Homo sapiens: one gene and its partners. The gene in region 4 interacts genetically with the main gene of each other region. Each region holds a gene or a part of one and is shown on either strand. Other genes may lie near its edges. The genes, in order: SLC39A9, CARM1, B3GNT2, SEC23IP, IGF2BP1, SEC24C and RAB5C.

Evidence for each region.
Region 1: changes in SEC23IP (region 4) and SLC39A9 together harm fitness more than expected from each alone (negative genetic interaction), as found in Homo sapiens cells (one large-scale study listed by BioGRID).
Region 2: changes in SEC23IP (region 4) and CARM1 together harm fitness more than expected from each alone (negative genetic interaction), as found in Homo sapiens cells (one large-scale study listed by BioGRID).
Region 3: changes in SEC23IP (region 4) and B3GNT2 together harm fitness more than expected from each alone (negative genetic interaction), as found in Homo sapiens cells (one large-scale study listed by BioGRID).
Region 5: changes in SEC23IP (region 4) and IGF2BP1 together harm fitness more than expected from each alone (negative genetic interaction), as found in Homo sapiens cells (one large-scale study listed by BioGRID).
Region 6: changes in SEC23IP (region 4) and SEC24C together harm fitness less than expected from each alone (positive genetic interaction), as found in Homo sapiens cells (one large-scale study listed by BioGRID).
Region 7: changes in SEC23IP (region 4) and RAB5C together harm fitness more than expected from each alone (negative genetic interaction), as found in Homo sapiens cells (one large-scale study listed by BioGRID).

The regions. Positions count from the first base shown.
Region 1 is NC_000014.9:69,401,692-69,405,191, reverse strand, and holds part of SLC39A9 (zinc transporter ZIP9), read right to left. Parts: intron 1-3,500. UniProt on the Homo sapiens protein: Transports zinc ions across cell and organelle membranes into the cytoplasm and regulates intracellular zinc homeostasis. Participates in the zinc ions efflux out of the secretory compartments.
Region 2 is NC_000019.10:10,902,553-10,906,052, forward strand, and holds part of CARM1 (histone-arginine methyltransferase CARM1), read left to right. Parts: intron 1-2,398; coding exon 2,399-2,524; intron 2,525-3,500. UniProt on the Homo sapiens protein: Methylates (mono- and asymmetric dimethylation) the guanidino nitrogens of arginyl residues in several proteins involved in DNA packaging, transcription regulation, pre-mRNA splicing, and mRNA stability.
Region 3 is NC_000002.12:62,199,115-62,202,614, reverse strand, and holds part of B3GNT2 (N-acetyllactosaminide beta-1,3-N-acetylglucosaminyltransferase 2), read right to left. Parts: intron 1-3,500. UniProt on the Homo sapiens protein: Beta-1,3-N-acetylglucosaminyltransferase involved in the synthesis of poly-N-acetyllactosamine. Catalyzes the initiation and elongation of poly-N-acetyllactosamine chains. Shows a marked preference for Gal(beta1-4)Glc(NAc)-based acceptors.
Region 4 is NC_000010.11:119,899,230-119,902,729, forward strand, and holds part of SEC23IP (SEC23-interacting protein), read left to right. Parts: intron 1-3,500. UniProt on the Homo sapiens protein: Plays a role in the organization of endoplasmic reticulum exit sites. Specifically binds to phosphatidylinositol 3-phosphate (PI(3)P), phosphatidylinositol 4-phosphate (PI(4)P) and phosphatidylinositol 5-phosphate (PI(5)P).
Region 5 is NC_000017.11:49,049,385-49,052,884, reverse strand, and holds part of IGF2BP1 (insulin-like growth factor 2 mRNA-binding protein 1), read right to left. Parts: coding exon 3,441-3,500; 3' UTR 1-3,440. UniProt on the Homo sapiens protein: RNA-binding factor that recruits target transcripts to cytoplasmic protein-RNA complexes (mRNPs). This transcript 'caging' into mRNPs allows mRNA transport and transient storage.
Region 6 is NC_000010.11:73,754,372-73,757,871, forward strand, and holds part of SEC24C (protein transport protein Sec24C), read left to right. Parts: intron 1-3,500. UniProt on the Homo sapiens protein: Component of the coat protein complex II (COPII) which promotes the formation of transport vesicles from the endoplasmic reticulum (ER).
Region 7 is NC_000017.11:42,144,990-42,148,489, forward strand, and holds part of RAB5C (ras-related protein Rab-5C), read right to left. Parts: intron 1-3,500. UniProt on the Homo sapiens protein: The small GTPases Rab are key regulators of intracellular membrane trafficking, from the formation of transport vesicles to their fusion with membranes.

The DNA of each region.
Region 1 (3,500 bases), on a different chromosome or scaffold from region 4:
TGTCCCCACCCAAATCTCATCTTGAGTTGTAGTTCCCATGCGAGGGACCTGGTGGGAGGTCATGCTGTTCTTGTGATAGTGAGTTCTTGCTGTTCTTGTGACAGTGAGTTCTCACGAGATCTGATGGTTTTATAAGGGGCTTTCCCCCTTTTGCTCAGCACTTCTCCATCCTGCCGCCCCATGAAGAAGGATGTGTTTGCCTCCTCTTCTGCCATGATTGTAAGTTTCCTTAGGCCTCCCCAGCTATGCTGAATTGTGAGTCAATCAAACCTCTTTCGTTTATAAATTACCCAGTCTCAGAAATGTCTTTATTAGCAGTGTAAGAATGGACTAATACAGACACAAAACTTTAAAACACGAAAGAACAAAACAAAGCTTAAAATGAGAGTAAGTATAATGAAGAAAAGAGAGTTAAATACTAAGAAAAATAGTATAAAGCAGGGAGGGTAGAGGAAAAGCCCTGGCCTCTCCAAATAGAATGGTAAATAGTAATGCAAACCAAACCCCACAACAAGACCTTTGGATTCCAAACAAATTGCCGAGAAGTTTCCATGACTGCGAAGGGGAGGAGGGGGAGGAGCTTCCCATTATTAAGTCTGTTTCCAAATAAAAGGTTTAACAATTATAAATTAGAACAAAGTTATAAAAATGAAAATCTTTACAAGTTTTTCTAATCAGTATTGAGAATCTGCCTCAATATTTTTGAAAGTTTTTATTATGTTCTAGACATAGTGTTAAGCCTGTGCTTATATTATTTCAACCTCACAACAATCCTAGAAGGTCATTTAACAGAAGAGATTTGGATTTTAATAGCTTGTTCAAGTAGTAACATTGACTTTGAATGATACTGTCTCAGACAGTCCCTTTTGAAATCAGTGCATTATTAATCATATTCATCTTTAAAATCATCCTAAGAATAGCACTACTTTCATCTGCCAACTTATGGATTTATGCTGTTGGTTATTTTAGGGAGTAGGTCTCCTTATGTTGCCAGTGGCTATTCACAGGCACACTCATAGCTCACTGCAACCCTGAACTCCTGGGCTCAAGTGATCCTCCCACATCAGCATTTGGAGTAGCTGGGACTAACCAGTGTGTGCCACTACATCCAGTTTTGCTGTTTTTGTTTGTTTGTTTTTTGTTTTTTTGAGAGGGAGTTTTGCTCTTGCTGCCCAGGCTGGAGTGCAATGGCGCAATGTTGGTTCACTGCAACCTCCGCCTCCCAGGTTCAAGCGATTCTCCTGCCTCAGCCCCCCAAGTAGCTGGGATTACAGGCACGTGCCACCACGCCCAAATAATTTTGTATTTTCAGTAGACACAGGGTTTCTCCGTGTTGGTCAGGGTGGTCTCGAACTCCCGACCTCAGATGATTCGCCTGCCTCGGCCTCCCAAAGTGCTGGGATTACAGGCGTGAGCCACCACGCCTGGCCTGCTTTGCTGTTTTAATACATGAAAAATGTGGCATTATAACTCAAACTGGTCTGCAATAAGAAAAGTATGGCAACTGAGATAAAGCCTTCAGAAATTTTTAGAGCAATATGATTATTACAATTATAGTAGTAATTTTTTATCTGTTGAATTTAACAATACATTTGGGCTTGTATTTTCTATGTCTTTTTTTCACTTCATTTTCCTACTATTTCATTTTTATAAGTGTATTGGTATGGATTGAAATAAAAATTAAAAACAAAAACTGATCCTTTACCAGGCAGTTTGAGGAATATTGCTGTAGAGCTCTGAGCCAAAAACAGCTTGCTCTCTGTTACCAGCTCTGTGACAAAGAGGAGACATACTCAGGTGAGTAACAACCCTCAGATAATCAATCTGAAATCCCACTTGAGCCATCTGTTTTTGTATCATAGCTCCATTTATCAACTGCAGCAGCACTGAGTTTATACTAGGTAATATAGGCTCTCAACCTACTTATGTAACATTGTTATTTAGAGCCAAAGAAAACTACTCATTAGCAATTCAATCGAAAAAACATAAGACAGTGTTAACTATAAACCAACGGGTCTCACTCCCTTACCAAACAGGGCTTCCTTTGTGTAAAGCATGCTTTGGCCTCCTTTATTTATTTATTTTTATTTATTTATTTTTATTTTTTTCTGAGACAAAGTTTTGCTCTTGTTCCCCAGGCTGGAGTGCAATGGTGGGACTCGGCTCACTGCAACCTCCGCCTCCTGGGTTCAAGCAATTCTCCTGTCTCAGCCTCCTGAGTAGCTGGGATTACAGGCACATGCCACCACGCCCAGCTAATTTTTGTATTTTTAGTAGAGATGGGGTTTCGCCATGTTGGCCAGGCTGGTCTCGAACTCCTGACCTCAGGTAATCCGCCCACCTCAGCCTCCCAAAGTGCTGGGATTACAGGCGTGAGCCACTTAGCACCTGGCTGGCCTCCTTTAAAAGTTAAAAGTGTTTCTCTTTCCTGTATACTGAAAAAATTTACATCCTGATTATCATAGTTACTTATAATTGCATTTGAGAATCGGATTTTTTTTCCTTTGTTTTATAAATTTTTAAGGCATGAAAGTACAGTTGCCAGGTCAAAGGGCAAGGAAGAAGGCCACAAAAGTATCAAGAAAGGTAGTTTTGGGGTGAGGAGAAACTGACAGAGAAATCAATGTCACATAAACCTCTTGGTGGGCACATCTGGCAGGTAGACCCCACCACTACTGCAATTTCAGACTACCTAATTTTAACTCGTTTTTAAATACTAATCTTGCCATAATTGATCATCTGACTTTTATTCCTGTTCTGAGATATTTTTAGAAAAAGTATTGAATGAGAAAGCAGCAGCAAGATTAAAAACATGAATAAAAAGCATATCTTTTCATGTAAATCAAGCTTGTCCAACTCATGGCTCGTGGGCCGCATGCAACCCAGGAGCACTTTGAATGAAGCCTTACACAAATTCATAAACTTTCTTAAAACATTATGAGTTTTTTTTTGCATTTTTTTTTTTTAGCTCATCACCTATCTTAGTGTTAGTGTATTTTATGTGTGGCTTGAGATAATTCTTCTTCTGATGTGGCCCAGGGAAGCCAAAAGATTGGACACCCCTGATGTAAACGAAAGTGAACTGTAAAACAGTAACACTAGCCTCTAAGAAAGCCAGACTTCCTTAAAAAGGCAAGTCATTTATCCAGTGTAGGAGTTTGGGGAATTATTTTCTAAGGAAAGAAATGGTGCTTTCCAGTCCCCCGTGAATGAAATTTATTTTTACAAATTTACCATCTCACTAGTTTCATTACAACATTGGTCCATAATAATGGCATAATTTACCTAGAAAATATGTTTAGTTCCTAGGAGATAGAAATCCTAGTTGAATTCTAGGATGTCTTTAAGTTATATATAACTTTCATTTTTTATTCTAATAGCTCAAAATGCATTGCATCTACTCTAATAATAAACAGATATTATGAATGCTGATTTTAGCATTTTAAGACCTACAGCTGGAAAAGACCATCTGACCGTCAATTTAAGAAAGCCACAAATGA
Region 2 (3,500 bases), on a different chromosome or scaffold from region 4:
CCCATCTTGCCCTCCCAAAGTGCTGGGATTACAGGCGTGAGCCACTGTGCCCAGACTTTTTTTTTTTTTTTTTGAGACATGCTCTTATTCTTGTCACCCAGGCTAGAGTGCAGCGTTGCCATCTCTGCTCACTGCAGTGTCAACTTCCTGGGCTCAGGTGATTCTCCCACCTCAGCCTCCCAAGTAATTGGGACTACAGGCGCATGCCACTACACCGACTAATATTTTTATATTTTTAGTAGAGACGGGATTTCACCATGTTGCCCAGGCTGGTCTCAAACTCCTGGGTTCTAGTAATCTGCCTGACTCCCAAAGTACTGGGATTACAGGTGTCAGCCACCATGCCTGACCCTAAAATAGTTTTTTATATATTCTGGACACTAAATACTTAACAATAGATGATTTGCAAATAGTTCTCCTAAGAGTTTTCTTGTTTTAGCTCTTATATTTAGGTCATTGCTCCATTTGAGTTCTGTTTTGTTTGTATATGGTGTGAGGTAGGGGTTTAACTTCATTCTTTTCTCTGTGGTTATCCAGTTTTCTCAACAGTGTTTGTTGAAGACACTATTCTTTCCCCATTGAATGTTCTTGGCATCCTTATCAAAAATCAATTGAGGATAAGTATAAGGGTTTATTTCTGGACTCTGATTCTGTTCCATTGATCTGTGTCTCCTTTCTTTTGCCAGTACCACTACACTGTTTTCATTACTGTACCTTCGTAGTAAAATTTGAAATTGAGACATGGGAATCCTCCAACTTCATTCTTTTTCAAGACTGTTTTGGCTATTCAGGGTGATTGAGAACACTTTGCCATATTTGCACTCATGTTGTTGTTGTTATGATGGGCTATTCAAAAGCAAGCTACTGACATCATGGGAATTTGCCATAAATACTTCCGCATATGTTTTCTAAGAAAATATGCATTTCTCTACAAAACCACAATACCATTGTCACATCCAAATAACTTAAAATTATGGAATATGTAGTCCACACTCACATTTCCCTAGTTGTCTTTTTTTTTTTTTTTAATAGGATCTCACGTCTGTTGCCTAGACTAGAGTGCAGTGGCACCATCATACCTCACTACAGCCTCAACCTCCTGGGCTCAAGCGATCCTCCCACCTCAGCCTCCCAAGTAGCTAGGACCACAGGTGTGAGCCACTCTGTCCAGCTCCCCAGTTGTCCTTTATTTATTTTTTTGAGACAAGGTCTTGCTCTGTCACCCAGGCTGGAATGCAGTGGCACAGTCATGACTCACTGTAGCCTCAGCCTCCTGAGTCCCTAAGACAACAGGCGCATGCCACCATGCCTGCCTAATTTTTAAATTTTTTTGTAGAGATGGGGTCTTGCTATGCTGCCCAGGCTGATCTCCAGCTCCTGGGTTCAAGTGATCCTCCTGCCTTGGCCTCCCAAAGTGCTGGGATTAGAGGTGTGGGCCCAGCCTCCCCAGTTGTCCTGTATAACTTTTAAAAACATTTTTCGTTTGGCTCCAGCCCAGGGTCCCACTTTGCATTGCATTGGGCACTCCCCTCTTTCTTGTCTCCTGCACTCTGGAATAGCTCCCACCGTTTTGGTCTTTCCTGACATTGGCCTGTTCAAGGAGACCAGGCTGGTTGTCCTGTAGCCTGCCCCACAACTTGTCCTTTTCTGTTGTCCCTTGAAGATGAGACTAGGGCAAACATTTTTGCCAAGAATACTACAGATGATGCACCTGTCCCACTGCAGTATGGCAGGCAGGGGCACAGTGCCTGATTGGGCTGGCCCGTTCCTGGCATCGCTAAGTTTCACCATTTGGCTGGAGTGGAGTGGCTGCAGGTTTGTGGAATGAATGACTGGTAACAGCTATCATGATGGGTACAGGGAGACAGTGTCCTAATTCACTAGACCACTGCCCCGCCATTAGCCCCATCTGATGGTGAGAACCCCAGTTCCAGAGAGGCTGAGGGACATGCCTGTGTCACAGTGAACAAATGGCATGGATGGGGTGTGAACCCAGCGGTCTGACTCCACTGGCCACATGCAGTCACTGCTCTGCGCCCATCCAAGAACAGAAGGGCTCAGCCGAGCAGGGCAGAGGCAGCTCCAGCTCTGAGTTCCTGTGGGCCAGCACCATGCCTTGTGGCCCTGTCTGCCCACCTCAGCCTTCACCATGCCCGTCTCAGCCCTGATCATCCTGAGGACACAGGCTGTGTTCCTGCTGTCTGATCAGTCGCTCCCTTGTCTTCCATGTGGGCTGGGCAGTCAGGGCACCCGGCAATGCTGCCAGGGTGGTTTTGTGGCACTCTGGAAGAATCTGGGGGCACCAAGGGGAGGCAGCAGGAGGGCGACAGGGACCCAGGCTCAAAAGAAGGCAGCTGACAGGGCTGCACCGCTCACGCCAGCCTGTCTTCTCTCGTAGATGAAGATGTGTGTGTCTTTAAGTGCTCAGTGTCCCGAGAGACAGAGTGCAGCCGTGTGGGCAAGCAGTCCTTCATCATCACCCTGGGCTGCAACAGCGTCCTCATCCAGTTCGCCACACCCAACGGTACGTGGCCCTCCTTCCATTCCGGTGACACCAGCCCAAAGCGCCCAGAGCCCTGGTGGGCAGGGGCGTAGAGCCTGGCTGAGGGGTGGCCCGTGCATCCTTAAGAAGGCTCCACTGCCCTCAAAACCACATTCCCACATGCAGGTATGCCCAGAATACACTCTGGCCTGGGCAGACCCTGGATCCCAGACCCTCCCTCACCGGCTCCTCCGGGTCTTTTGGGGCTTGGCTTCTATGTCCCCACCTCCAAGAGGCCCATCCTGACCACCTGGGACCAGTCTTTCTGGCAGTGGCCAGCCCTGGGCCAGCTGTGACTGGGCCAGCTGTGGATGGAGTGAGGCGAGGTCCTAGAGGCAGGAAGAGTTTGCTCAGGGCGCAGAGAAGCCACCAGAAGGGCTTAACCAACCCACCTTGGGGGCACAGGTGGACACAAGATTCCTGACTAGGGGTGGGAGAACCCCAGGTGGATGCAGCCAGGGTAGCAGAGAGGTGTCCAGGAATGCCCAGGGCTGGAGATGGTCTGAAGGTCCCACCGCAGGCTTGGTTACCAGAGACCTGAAGTGAGTCCAGTGGTTGACACAGGTGCTGGTGCGAGGACAGCTGGAGGTGGAGAGGCTGCGTGCCCATGAGCCACTGCCGGCCTCCCCCTTGTCTCAAGGTAGCTGTGCAGTGACCCAGATGTACCTTGGGCAGCCTGAGCCCTCGGGGCCAGCTGTGTGAAGCTGCCATGCCTGGCTAATTTTTTGTAGAGATGGGTTTTCACTGTGTTGCCCAGGCTGGTCTTGAACTCCTGGCCTCAAGTGAGCCACCTGCCTCAGCCTCCCAAAGTGCTGGGATTACAGATGTGAGCCACCGTGCCCGGCCCCTTTTTTTTTTTTTTTTTTTTTTTTGAGAAAGAGTGTCACTCTGTTGCCCAGGCTGGAGTTCAGTGGTGCTATCTTAGCTCACTGCAACCTCCACCTCCCGGGTTCAAGGC
Region 3 (3,500 bases), on a different chromosome or scaffold from region 4:
TCCTCAATGCAAGCCTGGCCATAACTTGTCAGCACCCACACCCTCTCTCTCTCTCCCCTGACCACAAGAACTTTCACTGGTTCCTCACTACCTCCATAACTATTAACTGCCACATCTCTGCATGATCCCCGAGATTGCATCATGGCCTATTACACCTTTCTAAGCACCATGCACTCCAAACCCAATGGATCACCTGCTGTTTCCCCAAAAGACCTCTATGAGCCTTTCTGTTGTGTCCTGTTTTCTCAGCCTACAATCCCTTGAGCACTTCTACCTTCCTTTCTCTGCCTCTGAAATGTTATTCACATCCTTCAAGACCAAGCCCAAAGGCCACTTCCTTAAGAAGCCTTTCTTGGCTGCCTCCAACACATAATTGGCTTACACCTCTACCAAGGCAATCTTACCAGTTCCTGGCTGTCTCCACCACACTGCCCACTGAAGGCAGCAATCACGCACAGCCAAGCACAGTGCTAGGCACACACCAAGTGCTCAATCAATGCGTGTTTGGTCGGAGAACAAACTGCTCACTTCACCAAACATCTTGAGGTCTTAATGGAGAAGTATTCCAGGGCAGGTTTTCCGTGTTGGCTACTGTAATCTGGAGACCAGGGGACCCTCTGATGGAGTCTCTGGGGACTGTCTGCTCAGCACTAACAAAGGTACAAGTAGGGACCACAGTGTGGACAGATTTGAACTTAGGCCTACGAAGACTCTTGCCTTCTCTGCTAGACATCTCTAAGCAGGCCCATATTTTGTTTTAAATTTCCATAAAGTATTGGAAGTATGTTTTTCCTAAGGTCATTCTAGAAGTGTACAAAAGAAGAAATGAGCACTTAGAAGGACCCACATCAAGTTAATGTAGTTATAGTGGTGAGAGAGGGTGGAATTAGTTTTATTTTCCTTTACTTTATCTTGAATACTTTTTCTAAATAAACATTTAATGAAAGTCATTTAGAAAGAATGCCAAGTACTACCCAAGTTACATTTGCAGAATGAGTCCAAAAATGAAAAGTACCAAACAAATAAGGAGACATGAGGCCATGGAATTATGTAATACCGCTTACACGGTAAGATTACAAGAGCTGAAAATGTTTTAAGTGGCTTGTCTGAAGCAAGCAATTAAAATAATTGGTCCTGTGCTTTCACCTCTGAAATAATTATTTCACTAAACATAAAGCAGATGTTGTGAGCATCTTGGGCACTTATTGATGACTCTTACCCAAACTAAACTCTTCCACAAGCTCCATAATTGACCATAAACCAGTTCTCATCACTGCATCCTAGCTCATGTTACACAGGTGGCCAAACAACTCTGAATGGGACATTTCAATGACTGTCTTTAGAGAGGAAATGTCAAAAACAGGCAACTAACAAATAATACATCTTAAAGCTAAAGCTATATCAACAAAGTATTAAATAAAGATTTGTCTTCTAATTTTCAATAAAAGACCTACAGAACTTTTAATGAAATAGCTCATTTAAACACAAAAGATCTAGTTGCTTTAGTTATCACCCTGTTAAAGAAATAAAAAGGGGAAGAGGAAACTGCAGTCAGGCACAGTGCTAGGTATTCTAGGTGTAGCTTTATATTACTTTCCCCAGTAAATCTAACATAGGGCTTTATCTTCCCCATTTTACAAGTGAGAAAATTTATCCTGAAATAGTTCGTGTAATTTTAACTTTAGGCATTCCCATACGTAACTGAGACTCAGATTAAATAACTTGTCCGTAGTCACACAATAAGTGGTAAAAATAGAATTCAAGCCTATTTCACAAAAGACTACATGCCACACTGTATGACTGATTCCACTTACATGAAGTTCAACAGGTAAAACCCATCTATGATGACAGAAGTCACATCTATGATGATGTAAGAAAGAATAACAGTTCCTTCAGGGTGAGGGGGTGGGAACACGGACAAGACATGGGCGCAGGAACCTTCTGCAGTACTGAAAATGTTTATTTCTTAATCTGAGAGCTTACATACATGAGCTCATGCTTAATATTAACACTTCTCACACTTTACTGCATGTTATACATGAAGTTAAAAAAATCCTCATCTTATGGACTCCAAGTTTATGCTCTTAACCACTAAACCACCACATGGCACTCGGACAGAATCTAGCCACATGCCAGAATTGATTACCTTGGATTATCATTTTTTTCAAACATTCTGGTAAGCTACGTACATCCTACTCATATCAGAATGAAGACACCTGAACCCTCTGTTTTAAAATGCCACAGAATGAAAAGTAGAAAGTATCAATTTCCTGGCTACTGGGAATTTCCCCCTCTGTAGCCACATCAGAAAATGGTTTTTGTTTTTTTTAAGTTATAGATGCACAGAAAATAATGTGTAACATTCTTAAAGTTATATATGAAAATACCTAAAGCTAAAATTGCACAAGATACATGTTATGACTCTCAAAAGACATCTGAATTTTTGTTACAAAAATTAAGACAAGGCAAAAAGACAAAGCTGGTGGGCAGAGGTTGTTAATACTCACAGGGCAACACACAGAGGGCAAAAATCTCAACTCTTAAAATTTGTAACAAATAGAAAACTCAGTACAAATAACTTTTTCCAGCAGCAAAGTAATTGTGCCACATAAGCCCTAATAATAAATTCTCCATCAAGTAACAGGTTCCAGCCTGGCAAAGTCTCCTTACCAGTGAGTGATGATGAAATCATTACATCAATTCTCCCAAAACCTTACCCCACACATACATACACCTCTTATTCAAACAGTAATTGCCTCTCCAGAGAGAGGAATGTATTCATTCTGTAATTTGCAGACATATTTGGCAAGTACGTAGGAACAGCAATCCCACCTTAGAGAGTGGAGAAAAAGACAGCTGGGTCCACACCTTTTGGGTGTTTGTGCTGTTTTCTTTACTGGATGCAGCCAGGAAACATTTACCACTTCAGAGTCTAGTTTAATTCATGTTTTAACCTTCTGTACACACCAAAAATACCAAGCAACCAAATGACTTTAGTTTCCCCTGGGCACTTACATAAGAGACCAAAAGGCCTTTATGAGAATCTTTCAGTATTGGTGATGTATGTACCACCATCAGGGATGTTGCAATAGATTACACATCACCAAGTATTATCCTAGTTGCAAGATCTCAAGGTCTCAATGTTTATAAAAGTAACCATAGGCAGTTATTAATTTTTAAAGTCTCTAACAGACTTTCCAATAAAACCATCAAAAAAATACAGAAAAATACAGTCAAATACTACATCCATTAACCAAGTCAGAAAGAATGAAAAGCACTGACCCAGTATGTCAAGAGTATTAACAGCTGTGGATCAGCATCCCTAAATTAGGATTTTCATGAAACCCTAGCATTGCTAGAAAACATTTAAAGCTAAGGCCAGGCGCGGTGGCTTACGTCTGTAATCCCAGCACTTTGGGAGGCCTAGGCGGGTGGATCACCAGGTCAGGAGTTCGAGACCAGCCTGGCCAACACAGTGAAACCCTGTCTCTACTAAAGAC
Region 4 (3,500 bases):
GTAAAAATAAGTGTTGTCTAGAGACATAGGAGAATTGAAGCGGTTATTGTCTTAACAGACTGCTAGTTTCTCATCTTTCAATTACACTAGTCAATCAAAACACTCAATTACAGGGACTAAAATTGATTACTTCAGTAATTTCTTTATGGAGTTTGGATCTAGATCAGTCAAACTCTATCTAGGGAGAGTTGGTGGAATAACGTATGCATTGGGTAAATTTCATGAAATTCCCTTATGCATTTTTCCCAACTAATTGTTTATTTGATTTCCAAAGAAAAATCAACAGAATTAAACAAAAAGAGAAATGATTAAAAAGAATTAAGAACCCATTTCAGTGTGGTGGAGATAGCAGTATTGTGATCAGAATGTAACTAACTTCTCTGTTAGAGATAGAGAATGGACTCTGTTTTATCATTTCATTTAAATCATACCAATACACAAATTTTTGACAATGTTGGATTTCGGCATTCTGAAAAGTAACCAGATTCATAGCATGTGGTATATAGTTAGTATTTTTGCTAACTATAACAAACTAATTGTAGTTTGTTGCTTAAATTTTTAAAAAGGTTTTTAGATAAAAGTTTAAAAAATGATAATTTCAAACTTGAAGAAAAGTTGCAAAAATAAAAAGAGTACAAAGAGCACTCTAATATCCTTTACTCAGGTTTACTTATCATTAACATTTCATCCCGTTTGTTTTTTAATTTGTGCATGTGCACACCCTGGCATATGTGAGCCCTCCCTCTTCCCCCATCCCTTTCTCCTGCCCCTTCCTCCTGCTTCTCCTCCTGCCCCTCCCTCTTCCCTCCCTTCCCCTCATCGTTTTTTTCTCTTTCTGTATATATGCAATTTTGGGGGGAATATTTGAAGGTCAGTAAAATACATTATGATTCTTTACTCCTAAATTCCTGGTGTACATTTGCTAAGCATAAGGACATTCTTCTTATGTGCACAGTGCAGCTATGAATCTCAGGAAATTGAGTGTTGATGTAATACTTCAAAATGATTTTTTAGAAATTATATATGTGTATGTATATGTACGTGTGTGTGTATGTGTGTGTGTGTGTGTATATATATATATATAAAATTTTTTTTTTTGAGGCCAGGTCTTGCTCTGTCACTCAGGCTAGAGTGCAGTGGCATGGTAACGGCTCACTGTAGCCTCGAATTCTCAGGTTCAAGTGATCCCCCTACCTCAGCCTCACCAGTAGCTGGGACCACAGGCACATGCTGCCATACCTGGCTAATTTTTTTTTTATGTTTTGTAGAAATGAGGTCTCACTATGTTGCCCAGGCTGGTCACAAACTCCTGGGCTCAAGCAGTCCTCCTGCCTTGACCTCCCAAAGTTCTGGGATTATGGGCTAAATTATATATTTTTTTGAGACTGGGTCTCACTCTGTTGTCCAGGTTGGAATGCAGTGGCGCAATCACAGCTCACCTGCAGTCTCAAACTCCTGGGCCTCAAGTGATCTTCCTGCCTCAGCCTACCAAAGTGCTGGGATTACAGGTGTGAGCCACCACACCTGTCCCAAAATGGTGTCTAATTAAAAAATTTTAAAATAAGTCTAGTCTGATTTTAAAATCGTTTTTGTAGAAAATTTGAAAAATGCAGAATACTCAATTTAATAAAAAATGTCCATAGATAACCACTGTTTTCATTTTGTTATATGTCTTTTTTTGGCAAACATATAATACCTATGGTTTCTATAATCTATTTTTTTTTTGTGTGAACATACTTTAAATGTTACTAAGATTTTTTCTAAAACATTAAAATTTTTTTCTTTTTCTTCTTCTTTTTTTTTTTTTTAAAGAGTGGGGGGGGGGTCTTGCTCTGTCATCCAGGGTGGAGTGCAGTGGTGTGATTACAGCTCACTGCAACCTTGAACTACACTTCAGCCTCAGGAGTAGCTGGGACTACAAGTGTGCCCCACCATGTCCGTGTGATTTTTAGATTTTTTTGTAGAAACGGTATTGCTGTGTTGCTCATGTTGGGCTCAAACTCCTGGCCTCAAATGATCCTCCTTCCTTGGCCTCCCAAAGTTCTGGGATTATAGGTGTGAACCATCGTGTCTATCCTCTAAAACTTTTATTTTTGTTTATTTACTTATTTTTTTTTTTAGCTATCTCCTGCAGAAAGGATATAAGACATTTTTAATGGCGCTGGAGGATCTAGCATTTGAGTTAAATATTATTTAATCAGGTTTCTGTTAGACATTTTGATTATTTCCAGTGATTTCCTATTTTATTTATTTTTTTGCAAACATTCCAAATTTATTAGCTATGATTTTATAATCAACATTATTGAGGTATAATTTACATACAGTAAAAGGCATCCATTTACAGTATACAATTCGATTTATTTAAAGTGTACAATTAGCTGAGTTTTGACAGTTGTACACACCAATTTCCTATTTTAAATAACCTTTTGATGTATATCCTTGGGGATAACTTTTTATTTTTATTTTTTATTTATTGTTTGAGACAGAGTCTCTGTCACTCAGGCTGGAGTGCAGTGGTGCAGTCTCAGCTCACTGCAACCTCCGCCTCCCGGGTTCAAGCGATTCTCCTGCCTCAGCCTCCCAAGTAGCTGGGATTGCAGGCCTGTGCCACCACGCCCAGCTAATTTTTGTATTTTTAGTGGAGACAGGGTTTCACCATGTTGGCCCGGCTTGTCTCGAACTCCTGACCTTAGGTGATCCACCCACCTCAGCCTCCCAAAGTGGCAGGATTACAGGTGTGAGCCACTGCACCTGGGCTATTTGTTTTTATAATTCTATCTTTAGGATAAATTTTTAGAAATGGAATGAGTAGGTCAAGGAGTAGGCACATTTTAAAGGTTAAATAGGCCGGGTGTGGTGGCTCACACCTGTAATCCCAACACTTTGAGAGGTCAAGGCGGGCTGGTCACTTGAGGTTGGGAGTTCGCAACCAGCCTGACCAACCTGGAGAAACCCTGTCTCTACTAAAAATACAAAATTAGCTGAGTGTGGTGGCGCATGCCTGTAATCCCAGCTACTTGGGAGGCTGAGGCAGGAGAATCGCTTGAACTCGGGAGACGGAGGCTGTGCATTGCGCCGTTGCACTCCAGGCTGGGCAAGAAGAGCAAACTCCGCCTCACACACACAAAAAAGGTTAAATAAATCATGGGAGATGTATTGCTAGATTGATTTCTGTAAAGGTGTTAGTTTACTTTGTGTTCTGTGAGAAGGTCTGGTTCACCTTGTAATTGATTTTTTTCTAAATTTTTTAATTTTTAATTTTTGTGGGTACATAGTAGGTATATATGTTTATGGGTTACATGAGATATTTTGATACAGGCATGCAATGTGTAATCATCACATCAGGATAAATGGGGTATAGATATCCCTCACCTCAAGCATTTATCCTTGATTTGGGGTTTTGTTAGGTTTAAAAATTCTTCTTAAAATTGCTTTGGGGTCTAGTTATTACACTAAGTAATTGTCCAGATATACATGTAGGATAATCTACTAACATCAGT
Region 5 (3,500 bases), on a different chromosome or scaffold from region 4:
ATCCTAAAGAGATGGTCCTTTCTTAAAAATATATATGTAGCACACACACACACATATATATCTTAGAGCACAGAAGCATTTTTTTTAAGTCACTCTTCTCAAATCATCCAAATCTCCCAAGTGCTTTTCGCGATAGCTTGTTATCTCACCAAGGATGGGGAAATGGAGGTGCTGAGCAGGAGGGCAAGGAGTTGCCCTAAGACCTAGCCTACGGGGCACAAGAGGGCCCGGCCCACCAAGACAGGTCCTTCATCCCACTAAACCTTAACCACCAAACCATGCTCCTTTTGCTTTCTGGTGGTATAACTTACATGATTTTCCTGCTGGGCAAATATCAACAATGAGTGGAGCCTTGCCTAATCCAAGCAAGTGAAGTTTTCCAGTCCCTTGCCACACACTTCCTCGTCTCTTCTGGGAGCTGAATCAGCCAACGGAAAAGGACTTGGGCTCAAGGTGTGAAGGGAGCAGGCCCCCAAGGAAACTGAACACTGCAACAATCACATTTCAGGTACTGTGGGATTTTTTTTTCTTCCTGATGATAGTCTGAACCAGATATCAAAGCATGCTTGCTGCTGGAAATTCGCTTTAAATTACTAAATGGCCGACGTCTGAACGTTATCTGCTTTGTTTTGGGATAAAGCATATAGAGCCAGAGATGGAAAGCTGGGAGACCCTTTTTATGGTTGGGACAGGTGGAGAGGCTTAATTCTACTGGCCTGATGTTATCCCTAAATGTTTTTCTGCTTCTATTCAATTTGGGCCAGACAATTCTGGGGGCTACAAGGGAATGTCCTAGGGAGAAAATGATAAGGCAGGAACCTGTCCCAGTCACGTCCCCATATCCCCTGCCCCTCCTTGCCACCAGCCACCCTAAATCAAGAATTCCCTAAGTTTGGGTCCACTTTTAAAATCAATCAGACCGATCTAAAGAAGACAGGGAGACAGAGGTGGGGGCAGTTAACTAGTATCTGTTTGCCCCTTAGATCTATGGATATAGATTAGGAAGAATAGCAAGACGGAACTGAAATGAAACAATAACAAAAAAAAAAAATGAAAAGCATTGCAATGACAAACCAGGTGGACCTCTCTGAGGGCGAGAGGGTGGCCTTGTCTTTTTTCCACGAACGGAATCTCAGCTCCCATATTTTTAGACAGAGAAATATAGGTTTTTTTAAAGGGTATATTTTTTAGTTATTATTTCTCTCCTCGATAAAACGGAGGCAATATTTTAAAATATCTCAACAGCACCACTGGTGGGAAAAGCTGGCTGAGATGCTCTTTAACCAAAGGAGGAAAGAGAGGAGACCAAGGGCCAGCTGGTTGGTTGTTGGGCATTGTTTAACCACTGAGAGCCCCCAGCTCCACTAGGCCTTTTAATCCTATCAGGTAGGATATTCCAGCAGCCGCCAGCAGCTGGGGCTCTAGAAGTCAGAGATCAGGGCCAAACAAGGCTCTGGGCTCTGCCCCTCTGGGCTCTCTCAAACCTGGGCCTTCCCTCTTAGCACTAGCCTCCTCCTAAGGGGGCAGCCCCCAAAGCCTTTCCCACCAGGCCTGTTCTCCATAGAGAGTTCCTAAAGGGTTACTGGCTCATGTTGTAAGAAATTATGAAACATAACTTTCTTGTTTTTTCTTTTCATTAAAAAAATAAAATATTCAAGACTATCAGCTTCTCTTTTGCTTTGCTTTTCTTTTTTATATAAAATATCAGCAAGCTGCAAAAAAACAAAAATCAAAAAAAAATTTTTTTAATGGGGTTGGGGGGAACAAAAAGGAAAATAATTGCTGAGGTAACTTCATACCTTGAGGTAGTTTACTTCGCACACAGCATTGCCTGACTACGCCCACATGTTGCGGTTGTCTTGTTGTTACTGTTGTTGCAATGTTGAAAGGAGGGGAACTCCACGCATGGGCTTTTCCATATGTAGAGAGGCCTTCCTCCCTTCCCAGCACACTTGATAGCATTGTCCAGGGTAGCTAAAGTGCATTACCTGGCTAATATGCATTGTCAATCAGTATATTAGGAGGAGAGGCCTAACCTCATTTAACTGATGGCTTCTGTCTCCCACAAGGGCTAAACACTCCATGGGATCTTAATTAAGCCTGGTAAATTAATAAATTAAGCTTATTTACCCCTTGCTGTACAATGCTGCTGGTATTCTGAATTGTTTTTTAGACACACCTTTCATCATGCTGATAATGATTCATGGAGACAGAAGCCGTCAGTTAAAAATTCCTCTCAGATACAAACAGAAGCAAGTACTCTCCAATTTACTGAATTTGCCAGATGATGGACTTTAGCTTTATCGGGAGCTCAGGGTTGGGTTCCAAGTCCCACCACCAAGGTAACAGTGCCGTGGCTGGGAGTGCCCCACAACCCCTGCCTCTAGGAACCAGCCCTTATGGGAGCACATGGGCTGGGGTGAGGGCACCGTGGCAGCCTTTGGGGCCACTCAAGTCCTCCATGGAACCGAGACTTTATCAAGGGGAGTTAGCGTCCCCTTCCCAGTGCTCATATCCAATCATTAAAATAGACTTTAAAAAAATATAAAATCCGCCTGAGAACGATGGGAATCAGGGACAGTGGTCAGCCCCTACCCTGCTGAGCATTCAATACCACCTATGTGCACCTGGACATAATGTGAAACCTACACGGGAGAGGGACATGAATGTGGTGGGGAAGCCCCAACAGAGTGGGGAAATTTCAGTTGTGCCAATTTGAAGATGGTGATCTGGCATAGATCAGCCACAAGTGCGCTCCTTTTAAACGTGGATTATTATGTATTTTAACCATCTTTCTCCCCATTTTCCCCTCTTCTTCATTCCGTATTGTACCTATTGGTTAGGGAGTGATTGGAATTAATCTACAGATACTGACAGTTCTTTTCCCTTGAGTCAATACTGTAAGCAAAGCAATGCATTCGTTCGCATTTTTTTCTGGTAGCAATAAAGATAAAAAAATTAGTGTAAATATAGAAAGAGGCCGTAAATGGAGGTATTTTAATCAATTACCCAAGTAGGGGGAAGAAGATTGGAAAAACATTAAGGTCAAGAAATGAACCATCCTTTAAGGCTGATTAAAACACCTCTCTGCATGTTTTTAAAACCTGAAGGAAATTTTATTTTTCTTCCCACTGAGGTGTGATCCACCCTCTTGGTGGGGCCTGGAGAGCTTCTTTAAACAATCCACGTTTAAAAGTGCCTTGCGCTAGAATTTCTGACACCCCGAGGGGCAGACAGTGTTGGGCCAATTGGGTGGGTGTTTGGGGCTGAGAGATCAGGGTTCCTCACTGGAACATCTTTCTCAATCAAGTGGGCAAACCTGATCTACAGCCCGGCCCAGGTGTCCCGGATTCCCACTCATTCTCAGGCCTGCCGGGGAGAGCACACTCTCGATTTCTGCCCGTTGTTGTCCTGGACTCGAAGGGACAGGGAGGGGCTGGTCACTTCCTCCGTGCCTGGGCCTGGTTACTCTGTCCCTTCTGATGCTGCTGCTTAACCTG
Region 6 (3,500 bases), about 46 Mb from region 4:
GCCACTGCACTCCATCCTGGGCGACAGAGTGAGACTTCGTCTCAGGAAAAAAAAAGTATATGGGAGGTTATATGCAAATATGATGCCGTATAACCCACATCCAATTCTATTGATTCCACCTTCAAGATGTATCCCAAATCTCACTACAGTCATTCCTCAGTATCCATGGGGGAATGGTTCCAGGACCTCCCCTGACCAACAGATACCAAAATCCACAAAGGCTCAAGTCCCTCATATAAACTCTATTCAAGTAGAGATGTTAGGTAGGCAGGTGCATATACAAATCTGCAGCTCAAGACTGATGCTAGGACTGGAGATAAAAATTTGGGAGTCCTCAGTCTATAGATATTTAAAGCCGTGGGACTAGATGAAATCATTTAAAAAGTGAGTATTGAGATTAAAGAATGGAATTGAGGACTGAGACTTGGAGCTTAGCAACATTTAAAAGTAAAGAGGAGCCGCCATTAAAAGACAATGAGGGGCCAGGTGCAGTGCCTCACTCCTGTAATCCCAGCACTTTGGGAGGCTGAGGCAGGCAGATTGCTTGAGCTCAGGAGTTCGAGACAAGCCTGGGCAACATGGTGAAACCCTGTCTCTACCAAAATACTAAAATTAGCCGGGTGTGGTGGCACATGCCTGTGGTCCCAGCTTCTTGGGAGGCTGAGGTGGGAGGATGGCTTGAAACCAAGAGGCGGAGGTTGCAGTGAGCCGAAATCGCACCGCTGCACTCCAACCTGAATGACAGAGTAAGACCCCATCTCAAACAAACAAAAAAAAAACAAAAGACAATGAGAAAGAGCAGTAGTGAGGTGGGAGATAAGCCGGGAGAGTGTGGTGTCCTGAAGTCAGGTGAAGAGAGTATTTCAAGAAGGTGAGAGAGTAATCAGTTGTGTCAGATGCTGCCAAATTGTAAGATGAAGATGGAGAATTGACCATTGAATTTGGCAAGGTTGGCGTCATTGGTAAAGGCAGTTTCAGTGTAGAGATAAAGAAAACTACCCAGTTGGAGTGAGTCAGAGTTTCAGGCCAGGCGCGGTGGCTCATGCCTGTAATTCCAGCACTTTGGGAGGCCGAGGCGGGTGGATTACAAGGTCAGGAGATCGAGACCATCCTGGCTAACACGGTGAAACCCCGTCTCTACTAAAAATACAAAAAATTAGCTGGGCGCGGTGGCAGGCTCCTATAGTCACAGCTACTTGGGGGGCTGAGGCAGGAGAATGGCGTGAACCCAGGAGGCAGAGCTTGCAGTGAGCCGAGATCTTGCCACTGCACTCCAGCCTGGGCGACAGACAGCGAGACTCCGTCTCAGGAAAAAAAAAAAGTTTCAACCGGGTGGTAGATTGACATAATCTGAAAACCCTCTGCTACCAAAGTCTAGAAAGGAGAGAGAAAATAGAAACAAAAAAAATTTTTAAGTGCAAAGTTAAGCTTGAAAGAAAATGTGAAATTCTTAAGTTTTAGAGACCAAGTGAGGACTGAAAATCTTTTTTTTTTTTTAAATACAGAGTCTTGCTCTGTCGCCCAGGCTGGAGTGCAGTGGCACGATCTCTGCTCACTGCAACCTCTACCTCCCAGGTTCAAGCGATTCCCCTGCCTCAGCCTCCCAAGTAGCTGGGACTACAGATGTGGGCCACCATGCCCGGCTAATTTTTGTATTTTTAGTAGAGATGAGGTTTCACCGTGTTGGCCAGGCTGGTCTCAAACTCCTCGCCTCAGGTGAACCGCCCACCTTGGCCTCCCAAAGTGGTGGGATTACAGGCATGGGCCACTGTGCCTGGCCATCAAGTGAGGACTGAAAATCAGAGTGGTAAATTGACTCTGGAGCTGCCTGTAGATTGGGTGGATTCATCATCTTGAGAAGCCAGGGCCTTAAATTTAAGCAGGTACTGGGGAAGGCAGATGAGTCCTTGGGCTTTCCTGAGAGTAGTTTTGGAACTGAGACATTGTTTATAAAGTCTGGACCTGGGCTGCACCTTCATTGAACAAGCTGACTAGGGGAAAAAAGTCTGCACGCTGGAAAGGGGAGATAAGGAGTGCTGTTTCTCTCAGGCTGGCTGTGGATGGGTGAAAAAAAAAGTTCTTGGGACTGCAAATGGACATGACATCTTTTTGGAATGATGAAAATGTTTTAAAATTTGATTCTGGTGATGGTTGCATAACTAAATTTACTAAAAATCATTGAATTGTTCACTTGAAGTGAATTTAATGGTATGGAAATTACATCTCAGTAATATTTTTTTTTTTTTGAGACAGAGTTTTGGTCTTATTGCCCAGGTTGGAGTGCAATAGCACGATCTCAGCTCACTGCAGCCTCTGCCTCCTGGGTTCAAGTGATTCTCCTGCCTCAGCCTCCCAAGTAGCTGGGATTCCAGGCATGACCACCATGCCAGGCTAATTTTTTGTATTTTTAGTAGAGACAGGGTTTCACCATGTTGGCCAGGCTGGTCTTGAACTGACCTCAAGTGATTCACCTGTGTTGGCCTCCCAAAGTTCTGGGATTACAGGTGTGAGTCACTGTTCCTGGCCAATTTTTTTTTTTTTTTTTTTTTTTTTTTTTGAGATGAAGTCTCGCTCTGTCACCCAGGCTGGAGTGAAGTGGTGTGACCTTGGCTCACTGCAACCTCCACCTCCCAGGTTCAAGTGAATCTCCTGTCTGAACCTCTTGAGTAGCTGGGATTACAGGTGTGCACTACCACGCCTGGGCTAATTTTTGTATTTTTTTAGTAGAGATGGAGTTTCACCATGTTGGTCAGGCTGGTCTTGAACTCCTGACCTCAAATGATCCATCTGTCTCGGCCTCCCAAAGTACTGGGATTACAGGCATGAGCCACTGCACCTGGCCTAATTTTTTTTTTTTTTAAATTAGAGGCCAGGTGCAGTGGCTCATGCCTGTAGTAATCTCAACACCTTGGGAGGCTGAGACAGGAGGATCACTTGAGGCCAGAAGTTTTAGACCAGCCTGGGCAACATAGGGAGATCCTGTCGCTATAAAAAAAAAAAAATAGCTGAGCATTGTTGGTGTGCCTGGGAAGCAGAGGTGGAGGCAGGAGGATTGCTAGAGCCCTGGAGGTTGAGGCTACAGTGAGCCATGATGGCTTCGCTGCACTGTGGCCTGGGTGCCAGAGTGAGACCCTGTCTCAAAAACTAAAAAAAAAAAAAAATCAATCTAGGGTGACACTGTCATTATTGGAGTACCTTCTGGAAACAAATGTAGAACAACCACACCTCAGTCCGGGCTGGAAGGGATTATCGGAGAAAGGCACTTTGATTAGAGTTGGGCCAGGCACAGTGCTCATGTTTGTAATCCCAGCACTTTGTGAAGCCGGGGTAGGAGTTCAAGACTATCCTGGGCAGCATAGCAAGACCCTGTCTCTACAAAAAATAAAAAAAATTAGCTAGGTGTGGTGGTGTGTGCCTGTGGTCTCAGATACTTGGGAGGGGAGGCTTAGGGGGAGGATTGCTTGAGCCCAGGAGGTCAAGGCTGCAGTGAGCCACAGATA
Region 7 (3,500 bases), on a different chromosome or scaffold from region 4:
TCTCTACTAAAAAAAATACAAAAAAATTAGCCGGGTGTGGTGGCGCGCGCCTATAGGCCTGTAGTCCCAGCTACTCGGGAGACTGAGGCAGGAGAAAGGCGTGAACCCGGGAGGCGGAGCTTGCAGTGAGCCGAGATTGCGCCACTGCACTCCAGCCTGGGCGATGGAGTGAGACTCCATCTCAAAAAAAACAGAAAAAGAAAAAATAATTTAGTAACTCATGTAGCTACTCCGCCCTCAACAAGGGGAACATGAACATAAGTCCCTGTTCCTTAGGTGTGGGCTACACAGTGACTTTCTTCCAAAGGGTGCATGCAGCATGGAAAGGGGAAGGGGAGAACAACTTTACAGAGAAGCCTCACACACATCACCTCAGCCAAGTGATCATGGTTGACATCAGTCATGGAAAGGCTTGTGGATTGTATGTACCCTTGACATGATGTGATGAAAATAGCACTTTACCTCTCTGGTCCTCCTTCCCAAAACTTGGCACAGTCTACTTATGAAAAAAACACTGGACACAGCCAGGCGTGTTAGCTCACGCATGTAATCCCACCACTTTGGGAAGCTGAGGTGAGCAGATCGCTTGAGCTCAGGAGTTTGAGACCAGCCTGGACATCATGGTGAAACCTTGTCTCTACAAAAATTAGCCAGGCGTGGTGGTGCATTTCTGTAGTCCCAGCTACTTGGGAGGCTGAGGAGAATGGCTTGAGCCGAGATTGCACCACTGCACTCCAGCCTGGCTGACAGAGCAAGACTCTGTTAAAAAGAGAAAAATACTGGACAAATCCCAGTTGAGAAGAGATTCTCTTTATTTTTTATTATTTTTTTTGAGACGGAGTCTCATTCTGTCTCCAGCCCAGGCTGGAGCACAGTGACACGATGTTGGCTCACTGCAACCTCTGCCTCCTGGTTCAAGCGATTCTTGTGCCTCAGCCTCCTGAGTAGCTGAGATTACAGGTGCGTACCACCATGCCTGGCTAATTTTTGTATTTTTAATAGAGATGAGGCTTCACCATGTTAGCCAGGCTGGTCTCGAACTCCTGACTTCAAGTGATCCACCCACCTCGGCCTCCCAAAGTGCTGGGATTACAGGCGTGAGTCACCGCGCCTGGCCGAGATCCTCTTTAGATGCTTGCCCAGCACTCCTCAAAACTGTCAAGGTCATCAAAAACAATAAAAGTCTGAGAAACTGGCACAGCAAGAGGAGCCTAAAGAGACAATGAATATAGGTAACATGGGATCCTGGAACAGCAAAAGGACATCAGGTAAAAATCTAAGGAAATCTGAATAAAGGATGGACTTTAATGTAAAATACGTACTAACATAAGATGTTAATAACAGGGAAAACTATGTGTGAGGGATTGTGAGAAAACTCTGTACTATCTGCGTAACTTTTCTAAAAGTATTCTGAAAGAATAAGTTTATTAAGCCTCGGCAACATAGGGAGACCCCGTCTCTACAAAAAAATCAAAAATTGCCCAGGCACAGTGGCTCACACCTGTAATCCCAGCACTTTCAGAGGCCAAGGCAGGCAGACCACAAAGTCAAGAGATCAAGACCATCCTGGCCAACATGGCGAAACCCCGTCTCTACTAAAAATATAAAAATTAGCTGGGCATGGTGGCGTACGCCTGTAGTCCCAGCTACTCGGGAGGCTGAGGCAGGAGAATCACTTGAACCCAGGAGACGGAGGTTGCAGTGAGCCAAGATGGCATCACTGCACTCCAGCCTGGGAAACAGAGCAAGACTCCATTTCAAAAGAAAAAAAAAAAAGGAGGCCAAGGTAGGCGGATCACGAGGTCAGGAGATGGAGACCATCCTGGTTAACATGGTGAAACTCTGCCTCTACTAAAAGTACAAAAAATTAGCCAAGCGTGGTGGCAGGAGCCTGTAGTCCCAGCTACTCGAGAGGCTGAGGCAGGAGAATGGCATGAACCCGGGAGCTTGCAGTGAGCCGAGATCGTACCACTGCACTCCAGCCTGGGCGACAAGGCAAGACTTCGTCAAGAAAGAAAGAAAGAAAGACAGAAAGAAAGACAGAAAGACAGAAAGAAAGACAGAAAAAGAAAGAAAGAAAGAAAAAGAAAGAAAGAAAGAAAGAAAGAAGGAAAGACAGAAAGAAAGAAAGAAACAGAAAGAAAGAAAGAAAGAAAGAGAGAGAGAGAGAGAGAGAGAGAGAAAGAAAGAAAGACCAGCCTCAAGGTGAGCAGAGGATATCCAAGTACTGCAGGCACAGGACCAGGGAATGTTAAAGACCCCATCTGTGGAATACACATGTGAGGGCTGCTCATACCACTGGTCTGAACAGCTGCTGCCACCACTTTTTTAAGCCACCTTCACTCAGGAACGAGCCTTGTGCAGACATACAGAACAGTATCCACAGGCAGAGTCAAATTTGCTTCCACTGATCCTTGCTAAGTACTGGTCTGGGGTCGGTGCTGCCTCACCACACACAACTGCAGAAGCACGGTCGTTCTGTCCTGCCATCAGATACACACACGGCAGAAGCCAGTCAGCCGGACTGTGGCTAGTCAGGGCCGCGCCCTCATTGTCCCATTAAACCCTTCACCAGAAATGGAGATTTGGAGAGTCTTAACTTCTGGAAACTGAGTTTGTGACTTGCTTCCCATCATCCGTACTGTAACATTGATCCTATTGACCTGTTTGCTCTCCCATTTGTCTGTGAGCAACTTTCTGGGGGATGGACCAAAGATATGGCTCAAGCTGTGGGATCAGATGGATTTAAGTTTGAATCATAGGTTCACGACATCCAAAGTGTGTGAAGAAAGGAAGGGAAGTGTGTGTTAAAAGAAGTGGGCGAGGGCCAGGCATGGTGGCTTACACCTGTAATCCCAGCACTTTGGGAGGCCGAGGCGGGTGGATCACCTGAGGTTGGGAGTTCGAGACCAGCCTGACCAACATGGAGAAACCCCATCTCTAATAAAAATACAAAAAATTAGCCGGCCGTGGTGGCACATGCCTGTAATCCCTGCTACTTGGGAAGCTGAGGCAGGAGAATCTCTTTAACTCGGGAGGCGGAGGTTGTGGTGAGCTGAGATTGTGCCATTGCACTCTAGCCTGGGCAACAAGAGCAAAACTCTGTCTCAAAAACAAACAAAAAAAAAGAAGTGGGCAAGGCTGGGCACAGTGGCTCATGCCTGTAGTCCCAGCACTGGGAGGCTGAGGCAGGCAGATCATGAGGTCAGGAGTTTGAGATCAGCCTGGCCAACATGGTGAAATCCGTCTCTACTAAAAATACAAAACTAGATGGGCGTGGTGGTACACACCTGTAATCCCAGGTACTAGGGAGGCTGAAGCAGGAGAATCACTTGAACCCAGGAGGCGGAGGTTACAGTGAGCAAGATCGTACCATTGCACTCCAGCCTGGGTGAGAGGTCAAGACTCCATCTCAAAAAAAAAAAAAAAAAAAAAAAGAAGTGGGCAGGTGTTTGGTGTTTGCTTTAAGGGCAGGTTTGAATGTCTGCCCTCTCCTTTAA